Regions from separate parts of the Homo sapiens genome. Here region 1 is linked to region 2. Evidence: fine-mapped expression QTL. A gene starts in region 2. The other region holds a variant in brackets. All regions are shown on one strand. Distances are from middle to middle.

Region 1 (5,387 bases), 21 kb after region 2:
ATTTGCCCACCTCCACCTCCTAAAGTTCTGGGATTACAGGCGTGAGCCACCACACCCGGCCTATACCTACTATTTTTTTAAGACAAGGTCTTACTGTCACCCAGGCTGGAGTGCAGTGGTGCAATCATAGCTCACTGCAGCCTCAAACTCCTGGGCCCCAGTGATCCTCCTGCTTCAGCCTCTCGAGTAGCTGGGATTATAGGTGTGAGCCACCACACCTGGCTAAATTTTTTATTTGCCGAAATAGGGTCTGGCTTTGCTGCGCAGGCTGGTCTCAAACTTCTGGCTTCAAGCAGTCCTCCTGCTTTGGCTTCCCACAGTGATGGGATTACAAGTGTGAGCCACCACGCCTGGTCACACCTACTATTGTTGAAAGACAATTGCAACAAATAACCAACTAGTCATCAGTATCTCAAGTCATTTACCAAACAGGAGATATGCCAGATGATATACACTATGAAACATAAGCAGTATCTGCAGATTCAACACTATTTCTTTTCTTCTTTTTTTTTTTTTTTTTTTTTTGAGACAGAGTCTCACTCTATCGTTCAAGCAATTCTCATGCCTTAGCCTCCCGAGTAGCTGGGATTACAGGCACACACCACCACACCCAGCTAATTTTTGTATTTTAGTAGAGATGGGGTTTTACCACGTTGGCCAGGCTGGTCTCAAACTCCTAATCTCAAGTAATCCACCTGCCTTGGCCTCCCAAAGTGCTGGGATTATAGGCATGACCCACAGCACCCAGCCTCAACACTATTTCTAACATACTACCAATGTCATTTTTTCACAGATTTATAAACAAAATTTCTAAAATTCATATGGAACCAAAAAAGAGCCTGAATCGCCAAACCAATCCTAAACAAAAAGAACAAAGCCTGAGGCATCACATTACCCAAGGCTACAGTAATCAAAACAACATGGTACTGTTAGAAAAACAGACACATAGACCAATAGAACAGAATAGAGAGCCTAGAAACAAAGCCGCACACCTACAGCCATCTGTAGCTCAAACAAAGTTCACAAAAATAAGTATGGGGAAAGGACTCCTTATTCAACAAAAGGTGCTGGAATATCTGGCTAGCCATATGCAGAAGATTGAAACTGGACCCCTATCTTTCACCATGTACAAAAATTAACTCAAGATGTATTAAAGATTTAAATGTATGACCTCAAACTATAAGAATCCTAGAAGAAAATCTAAGAAACACCATTCTGGACATGAACCTTGGAAAATAATTTATGACTAAGTCCTCAAAAGCAATTGCAACAAAAACAAAACTTGACATGTAGGACCTAATTTAACTAAAGAGCTCTGTACAGCAAAAGCAACTATCAACAGAGTAAATAGACAACCTACAGAATGGGAGAAAATATTTGCAAACTAGGCATCTAACAAAGGTCTACTATCCAGAATCCATAAGGAACTTAAATCAATAAGCAAAAACAAAACAAATAACCCCATTGAAAAGTGGGCAAAAGACATGAACAGACACTTCTCAAAAGAGGACATACAAGTGGCCAAAAAACACGTGAACAAACACTCAACATCACTTATCATCAGAGAAATGCCAAGCAAAACCACAATGAGATATCATCTCACACCAGTCAGAATGACTGTTAACAAAAAGTCAAATAATAAAAGATGCTATGGAGAAAGGGGAACACTTACACACTATTGGTGGAAATGTAAATTAGTTCAGCCATTGTGGAAAGCAGTTTGGAGATTTCTCAGAGAACTTAAAACACAGCAACCATTCGACTCACAATCCCATTACTAGGTATATACCCAAAGGAAAGGAAATCATTCTACCAAAAAGACTCGTGCACTTGTATGTTCATCGCAGCACTTTTCACAACAGCAAAGATATGGAATTAACCTAGGTGCCCACAAGAAGGAACAAAATCATGTCTTTTGCAGCACCAAAGGACATTATCCTCAGCAAGTTAACACAGGAACAGAAAACCAAATACTGCATGTTCTCACTTATAAGTGGGAGCTAAGCATTGGGAACTCATGGCCATAAAGATGACAGCAATAGACACTGGGAACTAATAGAGGGGAGAGAGAGAGAGGAAGGCAAGGGCTGAAAACCTTCCTGTTGTATACTATGCTGGGTGGTGCAATCATTGTACCCCAATCCTCAGCGTCATGCAATTTGCCCATGTAACAAACCTGCACATGTACTCCCTCAATCTAAGCTAAAAGTTGAAATTACAGGGAAAAAAAAGCATCTACATCCTATGCCACAGATTGACTATTTATCAACACAATTACCAGTCAAATTCAGTGAGTTTACTGTTGGTGTTTTACCAAATCACAACTTTTTGTTTAGAAATTAATGATATGATATTACCTCCAGGGGTCTCTACATGGAATCCAGTTCACTCCAGGGTCTGGTATATCCTCTAGATAGGGGTAAATGCTCTCCCTGGTGAAGATCCAACCATAGATTCCATCTTCTGGGGTCACAATGATATGTGCACCCTGCTCGAAACAAGTGGGGCAAAAAAGTTTGTCATGAATTCCAAATACTCTTTGACCAAACTGCAAGTCTCCTTTACAAGTATAAAAGGGTAATACCTGCTTCGCTGCCAGCTTAACTGCTTTCTCCAAAACATCTATGTTCTTGTTCATCAGGAGCAAAGCTTCTTCTTTTGAAACAGGTGTTTCTGTTCTGTTTGGTAATATCACCGCATGCTCATATACTGCAGCAATAAAAGTGTCCAGTGCACCAACACTCAGAGCAAGGAGGGCAAAAACTGCCACACATTTTGGAAAATGTGATATAATCATAACTAAAATTTAGTGATCTTTGAAAAACAAACTCAGATTCTTAC[G/A]TTTTGTTTCACTGGAAAAACTTTACATTAAATCCCTCCTGGCAATCAGCTGTTTATATTTTCTTGCACATATATTACACAACACAGCATTGAGAAAGGATGTTGTGCAAGAAAACTGACAGCCAGGACGTAATTGGATTGATTCAAGTGTACAGTGCAGTTGTTGACATTGTTCAGAGTCAAGTCAACACTAAAAGATTGAGCCAACCAGATGAATTCACCCCAGTCCAAAACACACTGGCAGTTGAAGTCTTTTCTAATAAAAAAAAATTTTCCTGGTAAGCCAACATTTCTATTAATAGGGCCAATATTGGAAGGTAGTCATCATAGCAACAATTTGTTGAGCACTCTACTTACATATTTGTATGGCCATTTCTATTTGAAAAGCCCTTGTTCTCCATCCGTCTAAGTTCCAGCTCCCCCTAGAGTCCTCCCAAATCCACTCCAGTCCTAAGTGATATTTCTGAACTCCTATAGCATTTTTTTCTGTGCTGCTGAATGTCTCTCACTCCTTGCTGTTGTCTTGACCTTTAATTTAAATATTATACCAATACTTAATATTATATATGTATGTTTTGTCTTCTTAAAGAGATTAAAAAGAAACTTGCTGTTTTCTTTCAGAACATCCATGTCCAATAAACATCTAGACAGAGATGATGTATCCTGGGATGTGGCCCCTGGAGGGTAAGGGAAGTGTCCTGCTCACTGTTGAACCTCATCACCCCAGCACATGTGTGACAGATGGTGAAAGCTCAATATATGAATGAATGTTGAATGACGGAATCTACTACCTGATGGGCCAGTCTATTCCACCTTTGAACATTGCCAATTTTAAGAACATTCTTGTTATTGAGATGCAATTTACTTTACCTGTCTTCTACAGTTTAAACCCGCTTCCATATGAAGACTAATCAATAATTCAAAAAGTGTTAAGTTCTCCTTTAATTCTTTTATTTTTTAAACATATCATCCTTATAAGTCCCTTAAGGGCAGGGTCACATTATAATTCTCTGCTGCTTCTATAGAATTTTATACTGTGCTAAGCTCTGTAAATGTTTTTTGATTAGTTAAATTCACTTCCCTCGCCCAATTTTGGATTGAATCTCCTTGTTTGAATATCAGTTAATTTAAAATGTAGAATTTTTTTTAAGGTTTAAATCTCTGATTCTAGAACAATTAACACTGCTTCTCCCTCTTGAGATTCTTTCTAAGATCTAAGGAAAATTGTAAGTTATGGAGATTTGTGTCTATTTTGGGTTTGGTTTGTTTCTATAATTCAAAGTCCCTTGGTTTCAATAAACTTTTCCATTATCCAAATATTTCTGCTCCCAGATACCCCACAGTGTTTCCATATGTCCTTATGCCCTGATACCATTTCAGGAAATAAGGACATATGAACATAAATTCAGCCCTAAATTCTGAGTTTATGTCTGACATAAATTGTTTTCATCAGACATCAGACATAAGTTCTTTTCCAAAAAAATTTCTGAGGAGAAGAGGGAAACTATGTAAAACAGATGGATTGATCTGGGATGAGAAGAAAATAATTTTCATATTTCAAGTTGAAATTCTAACTCTTTTCTTGGTTCACCTGACTTTCTGAATAGAATCAAAAGGAAACATATGGGAATTCCCCTTCATTCTCCCAGCCCCTAGTTCCAGGAAATGTACCAGCTTTTTTTGTGTGTTGAAATCAATAGAAACTTGAGTTAAATATTTGATTACCCAATGTTGTTAGTAATGTCTTTGCTTCCTAGGTGTATAAGGCGTGCAGCTATGAGTTATTTGAAACACTGTATTGGTACATAATCCTTATGACAGTCTGGCATTATTGTAGGATTAAGAAGTTTAGAGTCAGAAGTTTTGTATTACAATAAATATAATTCTTCTTTTAAATATGTAAGGGACACATCTTAAAGGAGAGGTGCTGTAATAAAATATCTAAGAGTTTACTGGCTTTCCCCAAATCTTTATTTCTAAACTCATTGTAAAACCTCCTCTCCATTCTCCTTATCAAGTTCCTGACCCCATAAATAAGAATTCTTTCAGGCTCTCCATCAGCCTCTCTGATCCCACTCCTCCCACCCTAACCCTCAATACTGTAATCCATTAGAGTTCCCTTGACCATTGCTGTCATTAATTAAGATACTTCCCATGCATATATTGAATCAAAGCAGACAGTAAGAGCCTTCTTTCTCTTGGTTCCATTTTATATTTTGTGTTCTTAGCTAAAAGTACTCTTCTTATTGTAACATGATCACTGTTGCTCTGATCCTGGAATGATTCTGACCAAATCCTGCCTTTCGAGCTCAAATCCATTGCCTCTCCAGTCTTGTTGCTATTCCCTTCTCTAAACTCTTAATGCACTTATGGCCAGTAGCCACATTGTTGTTCACTGTCTTTCAGTCCCTTACTCTACCCTCTCCCCTGGCCCCAGGTTTTTTTCTACTTCATACCTTCAACTATCTTCTACAAAAGGATAATGACTGTGTCTCTATCTTTAGCTCAAACTTCCGTTCTGAACTTCAGGCCTATTTATCCAACTC
Region 2 (5,387 bases):
AAGATATTGGTTTCCTTACATTAAAATTAATAGTGCTGCTTTCACCACACTTAATATCTCTGTAGCCGAGACCTGACTTAAACCACTTAAAATCCTGCCATATCACCTCTTAGATTACAATCAGCTTACACTTTAAGGACTTTACTACATTAACCTCATCAGCTATCTTAGCAATGAGAAAGGAAAACTATTAATCTTAAACTGATGTGACTCTCTTTTGCCATTTACTCATATAGTTTTCAAATCACAGACCTACACAGGGAAATATTTTTCTGTTCACTGGTGAGGAGTCAGAGACCAGAGATGTTCACACTGAATGTGATGATTTCTAAGCTACTTTCTAGCTCTGACTTCTGTGACTTCATAATTCATATTTGCTCTCCCAGTAAATATACCCATAGTAGATGAAAAATAAGCTATACTGAAACTTAAGAATTGATCATGGATCTATGCAATGATCATCAACAAAGTTTTCCCAGGTAAATCAAGTTGATGTTTACTAGTGAATTTTTCACAAGTTGTTTCTTTACCTGTTACGATTATTACAGGGGATCCAGTTTACTTCAGGGTCTGGGATGTCCTCCAAATATGGGTAGAGAGAGTCCCTGTTGAAGTTCCAGCCATAAATAGCATCTTCTGGAGTCACAATAATATGCGCACCCTGTTAAAAATGCAACTTAATCCAAAGGGGGGCCTGCAAGAGGAGCTGAGGAGCTGAGTGGCTGAGTAACAACTATTTGGGCTTCCCCCACACCCCTTAAATCTTATTTTGTTTTCTATATTTTTATAATTTATTTTCTTTTCCAAAGCATTTTAATTTCCTTTTTTTTCAGTGCACTGTCACTTCTTTTTCTTTTTCTTTTCTTTTCTTTATTTCTAATTTTAGATTCAAAGGGTACAAATGCAGGTTTGTTGCATGGATATGTTACATAATGGTGAGGTTTGGGCTTCTAGTCAAGCATTTTTTTTTCTCTCTTTTTTTTTTTTTTCAGATGGAGTTTCGCTCTGCTGCCCAGGCTGGAGTGCAATGGCTAGATCTCGGCTTACCACAATCTCCACCTCCCGGGTTCAAGCGATTCTCCCGCCTCAGCCTCATAAGTAGCTAGGATCACAGGCATCTGCCACCACGCCTGGCTAATTTTTGTATTTTTAGTAGAGATGGGGTTTCTCCATATTGGTCAGGATGGTCTTGAACTCCCAACCTCAGGTGATCCGCCTGCTTCAGCCTCCCAAAGTGTTGGAATTACAGACATGAGCCACCGCACCTGGCTTAGTCAAGCATTTTAATTTTCTAATCCTGCCATTGTTGTTTCCTATGGCAGTCGTTAACTATAAACCTAGCTTATCCTGGAACCAAGCCTCTCCTTGAACTTTCGCTGATGACTGTGCCTGTGTCAAGACTGATTAATAACTTAAATATTCTGTTTATTTCCTCCTCTGCCCTAGCTTTCCCCTGCAAACATGATTCCTGCTTCTCAGAAAAAGAGGAGCCACAAACTGGTTACTTGAACTGTCCCATGCCTACAAGTACTGCCTGAGCTAACCTGGGCACCTTCCAATTAGAGAGTCACCTTAAAAAGCTCTGTGACCTTCAAGGAAATAGTTGGACTAAGGATGAAAAAGAACATCAGAACTCCTGATAACCTTTTAAATATTAGTATATATAAGAATATAGGGCAGTCACGGTAGCTCATGCCTGTAATCCCAGCACTTTGGGAGCCCAAGGCAGGTGGATCACCTGAGGTCAGGAGTTCAAGTACAGCGTGGGCAACATGGCAAAATCCCATCTCTACAAAAAATACAAAACTTAGCTGGGCACGGTGGCATGCATCTGTGGTCCCAGCTACTCTGGAGACTGTAGTGGGAGAATCACCTGAGCCCGGGAAGTCAAGGCTGCAGTGAGACGTGATCACACCACTATACTCCATCCTGGGTGACAGAGTGAGACCTTAACTCAACAACACAAAAGAATATATATTTATAGATATATGTAATACACATTTATCCATGACTTTTATCACACTTCATGTATTCCTGGTCTACACCTAATCGATCAATAGCTTTTAAAATAATATTTGTGTAAACCACAATTTATACTGTATGATTAACTTCAAACTGAAACCTTCACTAAACTTAAGGACTCACAATGCATTACATATACTTTTATCTTGTAATTAGAATGAAGTGTGAAGTATATAATGCATGCTGGCAAGGAATTGAAAACTTAAATTTGTTTTCAGATTATAAATTTATTCGAAAACCTGCAAAGCCTTAATAGCACATGAGTACATGAAGGCCACTAATACTCTGAAAATAGCACCTAGTCCCTGACCCATTTATCCTCCATCCTCCATCTGTACCAGAAAAGGGGAACAAAGATGTTGAATTTATGGCCAGTTCCTCAAAGGTCTGCTGCTTCTTGATAATGAGCAAATTGTTCTTTTCTTAACTTTGTTCTTACTTTTAGGGAAGTCCTTGCTCTAATTTTGAGAGGAAAGTAGAATTCTAACTGTAAAATAAAGGTTCTTGGCTACTCTGATACATATATCATCTAAAAGTGTAACTGACCCTGACAGTGGCCCTGTCTCCTAGGACCCCCTCCTTTCTCATAGAATCCAGTACACTGGAGAGATGGTAGAGATGGTACCTGATCTGCTGCTGATGTGATCGCTCCTTCCAAAATGTCCAGATTCCGATTCATTAATGCCAAAGCCTCCTCACGAGACACTGGTGTTAGGGTGGCATTGGGCAATATCGCTGCATGCTCATAAACAGCTGCAGTGAAAGTGTCCTGGCAGCTGGCTCTTGAGACATAGAAAAGCAAAATTGCCACGTAAGCTGGCAACTGAGTAGTCATGCTGAAGTCCAATGAGTGCTGAAAAACAGAGCATGTCCTGGTATTTATAGAAAGAAGACACGTGGTGTCCAGAACTTAGTACCTTAAACTACGGAAGTTAATTAAGAAAACGCTATGATTTCATAGCATTGTTACATAACAAAAGACCCTACCTTATTGCAGTAATTTGTGAAGATTAACTCAAGAACTCTATGTACATTAGTTCGCTAGGGCTGCCTAACAAAATACAATAAACTGGGTGGTGTAAAAAATAAAAAATTTATTGCTTTGCAGTTCTGGAGGGTGGGAGTCCCAGATGAAGGTGTCAGCAGAGTTGGTTCCTCCTGAGGGCGGTGAAGGAAAGATGTGTTCCAGGCCTCTCTCCTTGACCCATAGATGGCTGCCTTCTCCCTGTGTCTCTTCATATGCTATTCTCCCCATGTGTGTGCCTGTATCCAAGTTTTCCCTTTTTGTGAGGACACCACTCTAATCTTTAACACAGGGAAAGGGAAAATCCCAGCTCTAGCTTTTTTTGTCATCGTTGTTGTTTGTTTATTGTTGTTGTTGTTTGAGATGGAGTTTCACTCTTGTCACCCAGGCTAGAGTGCAGTGGCGAAATCTCGGCTCACTGCAACCTCCGCCTCTCGGGTTCATGTGATTCTCCTGCCTCAGCCTCCCAAGTAGCTGGGATTACAGGCGCCCGCCACCACGCCAGGCTAATTTTTTGTATTTTTAGTAGAGATAGGGTTTCGCCGTGTTGGGCAGGCTGGTCTCAAATTGCTGACCTCAGGTGATCCACCTGCTTTGTTTTTATGCCAAATAAGGGCAGAAGAAAAAAGCCAACTGAAGGTCATAAACCCAGGGGTACAGGCTCACTGAAAGACTGAGACTCAATCATAGGACCAATTCGATTTAGTGCCCACTGTACTCCAGTATAACTTCATCTTAACTAATTAGATCTGAAATGACCCCTTTTCCAAAAAAGTTACATTCTAAGATACTGACAGTTAGGACTTCAACATATAAATTTTTGGAATTCATATATTTTGGAATGTCAACACAAGACATTCAAATAATTTTAAAACTTTATTATTATTTTCATGTGAATATTTCAGCTCTACACTTTGATTTACTTTATTTTCCTCAAAATGGGGAAGCCAGGACAAAGAGGAATACAAAAGAGTTACTCATTTTCTATTGCTATATAACAAATTATCCCCAAATTCAGCAGCTTCAAAAAGCAAAAATACATCATCTCCCACTTTCTCTGGGTCAGGAATCCAGGGGCAGTTTAGCTGGTGCCTCTGGCCCAAGGTCTCTTTCACAAGGCTGCAGTCAAGCAGCTGCCAGGGCTAGCTATATCAAGGCTTGACTCCAGGAGGATTCACTTCCGAGCTCCAAGCTCCCTCATGTGGCTGACGGCAGGGATCAAGACCTCATTGGTTGTTGCCCAGAGACATGAGTTCCTAGTGATGCAAACCTCACCATAGGGCAGCCCGCATTATGGTATCTGGATTCCCTTAGAGCCAGACAGCAAGTGAACCCACTGGAGATGGAAGCCACGGATGCTTCGTAATGTAATTGGGGAAGCAACACCTCATCGCTTTTGTTGTATTCTATCCAATAAAGCATTAGGAACCATCTTTGAAGCTGCTTATCACAGAGGCAACAGAGGTGTATAAAGAATCAGAGCAAAAAAAAGAAAAAATGAGCTGGGGAGCGAGATCCAGAGAGAGGAGAGGGAAATTATATAAAATAGAAAAACTGTTCATAGATTTTGATATTGAGTAAGCTGGCAAATTTTGTTTCAGTTGTGCATTAAGTATAATATTTACAGAATTAGTGTTTATGTTTTTCCATTTTATTTTTAGATCTATTTGTCTTTGAATGGTATTTTTATAGTTCAATCTGCAAACAGGCATATCTAATTTTTTACTTTAGTAACTATAATGCATTTATTCTGCAATTGCCAAGGTAACCCAGGGGTTGTGGTTGGCTGGTTCTCCTGAGTTTCCGGTAAACACCAGCTTCTCTAACTGCTTGCTGACCTCTTAGGGCCTTTCCATGCCCAGGTGGGTGGGAATACCACATATTTCACAAAAAGATGTCATTATTATGTAACAATTTGTAAAAGGAAGCACTGAAATAAAAGTTAAAACTGAGATGAGTTGGCAAGAGGTTAAAAAATTACTTCTTGACCTTCTTAGATTAAAAATATTAAACCTCCCGTGGAGTTTCTAGTCCAACTCATAAAGAGCTTGGCAGTCATTTTTCCCATGCTCACACCAAGAAAAAAGCTAAACAAATGAAAATCGACAACTTTTCTAGGATGCATCAGAGAATTGAGATCACAGGATAAACTGCGGTCCTCAGAACTGCAGAGATAGGCAGATACAGAGGTTAAGAGTGTACTGCGAGCAGAGTCCTCTGCGGCTGGCGCCAGTACCGTGGGTTCACTTGAACTGTAATTGACGAATTGGTGGAGGCTCAGGGTGGACAACCTTGAGAGTTCTGGTCTGTTCTTCTTAACAAAAGCCTGCCCTCAAAGTAA

What was found. PIP is the estimated chance that this variant, and not a neighbour inherited with it, causes the effect.
Region 1: its variant is fine-mapped to the expression of VNN1 in whole blood (INTERVAL, PIP 0.97).

What each region holds. Positions count from the first base shown.
Region 1 is chr6:132,731,896-132,737,282 of GRCh38, forward strand. It overlaps the pseudogene VNN3P. Among named protein-coding and RNA genes, the nearest start is that of VNN1, 21 kb to the left of the region's middle. The variant G/A (reference allele first, on the strand shown) is at 2,842.
Region 2 is chr6:132,711,179-132,716,565 of GRCh38, forward strand. VNN1 (vanin 1) reads right to left here and starts at 2,877. Exons shown (of 7, transcript NM_004666.3): 1 at 2,648-2,877; 2 at 531-661. The coding sequence starts at 2,857.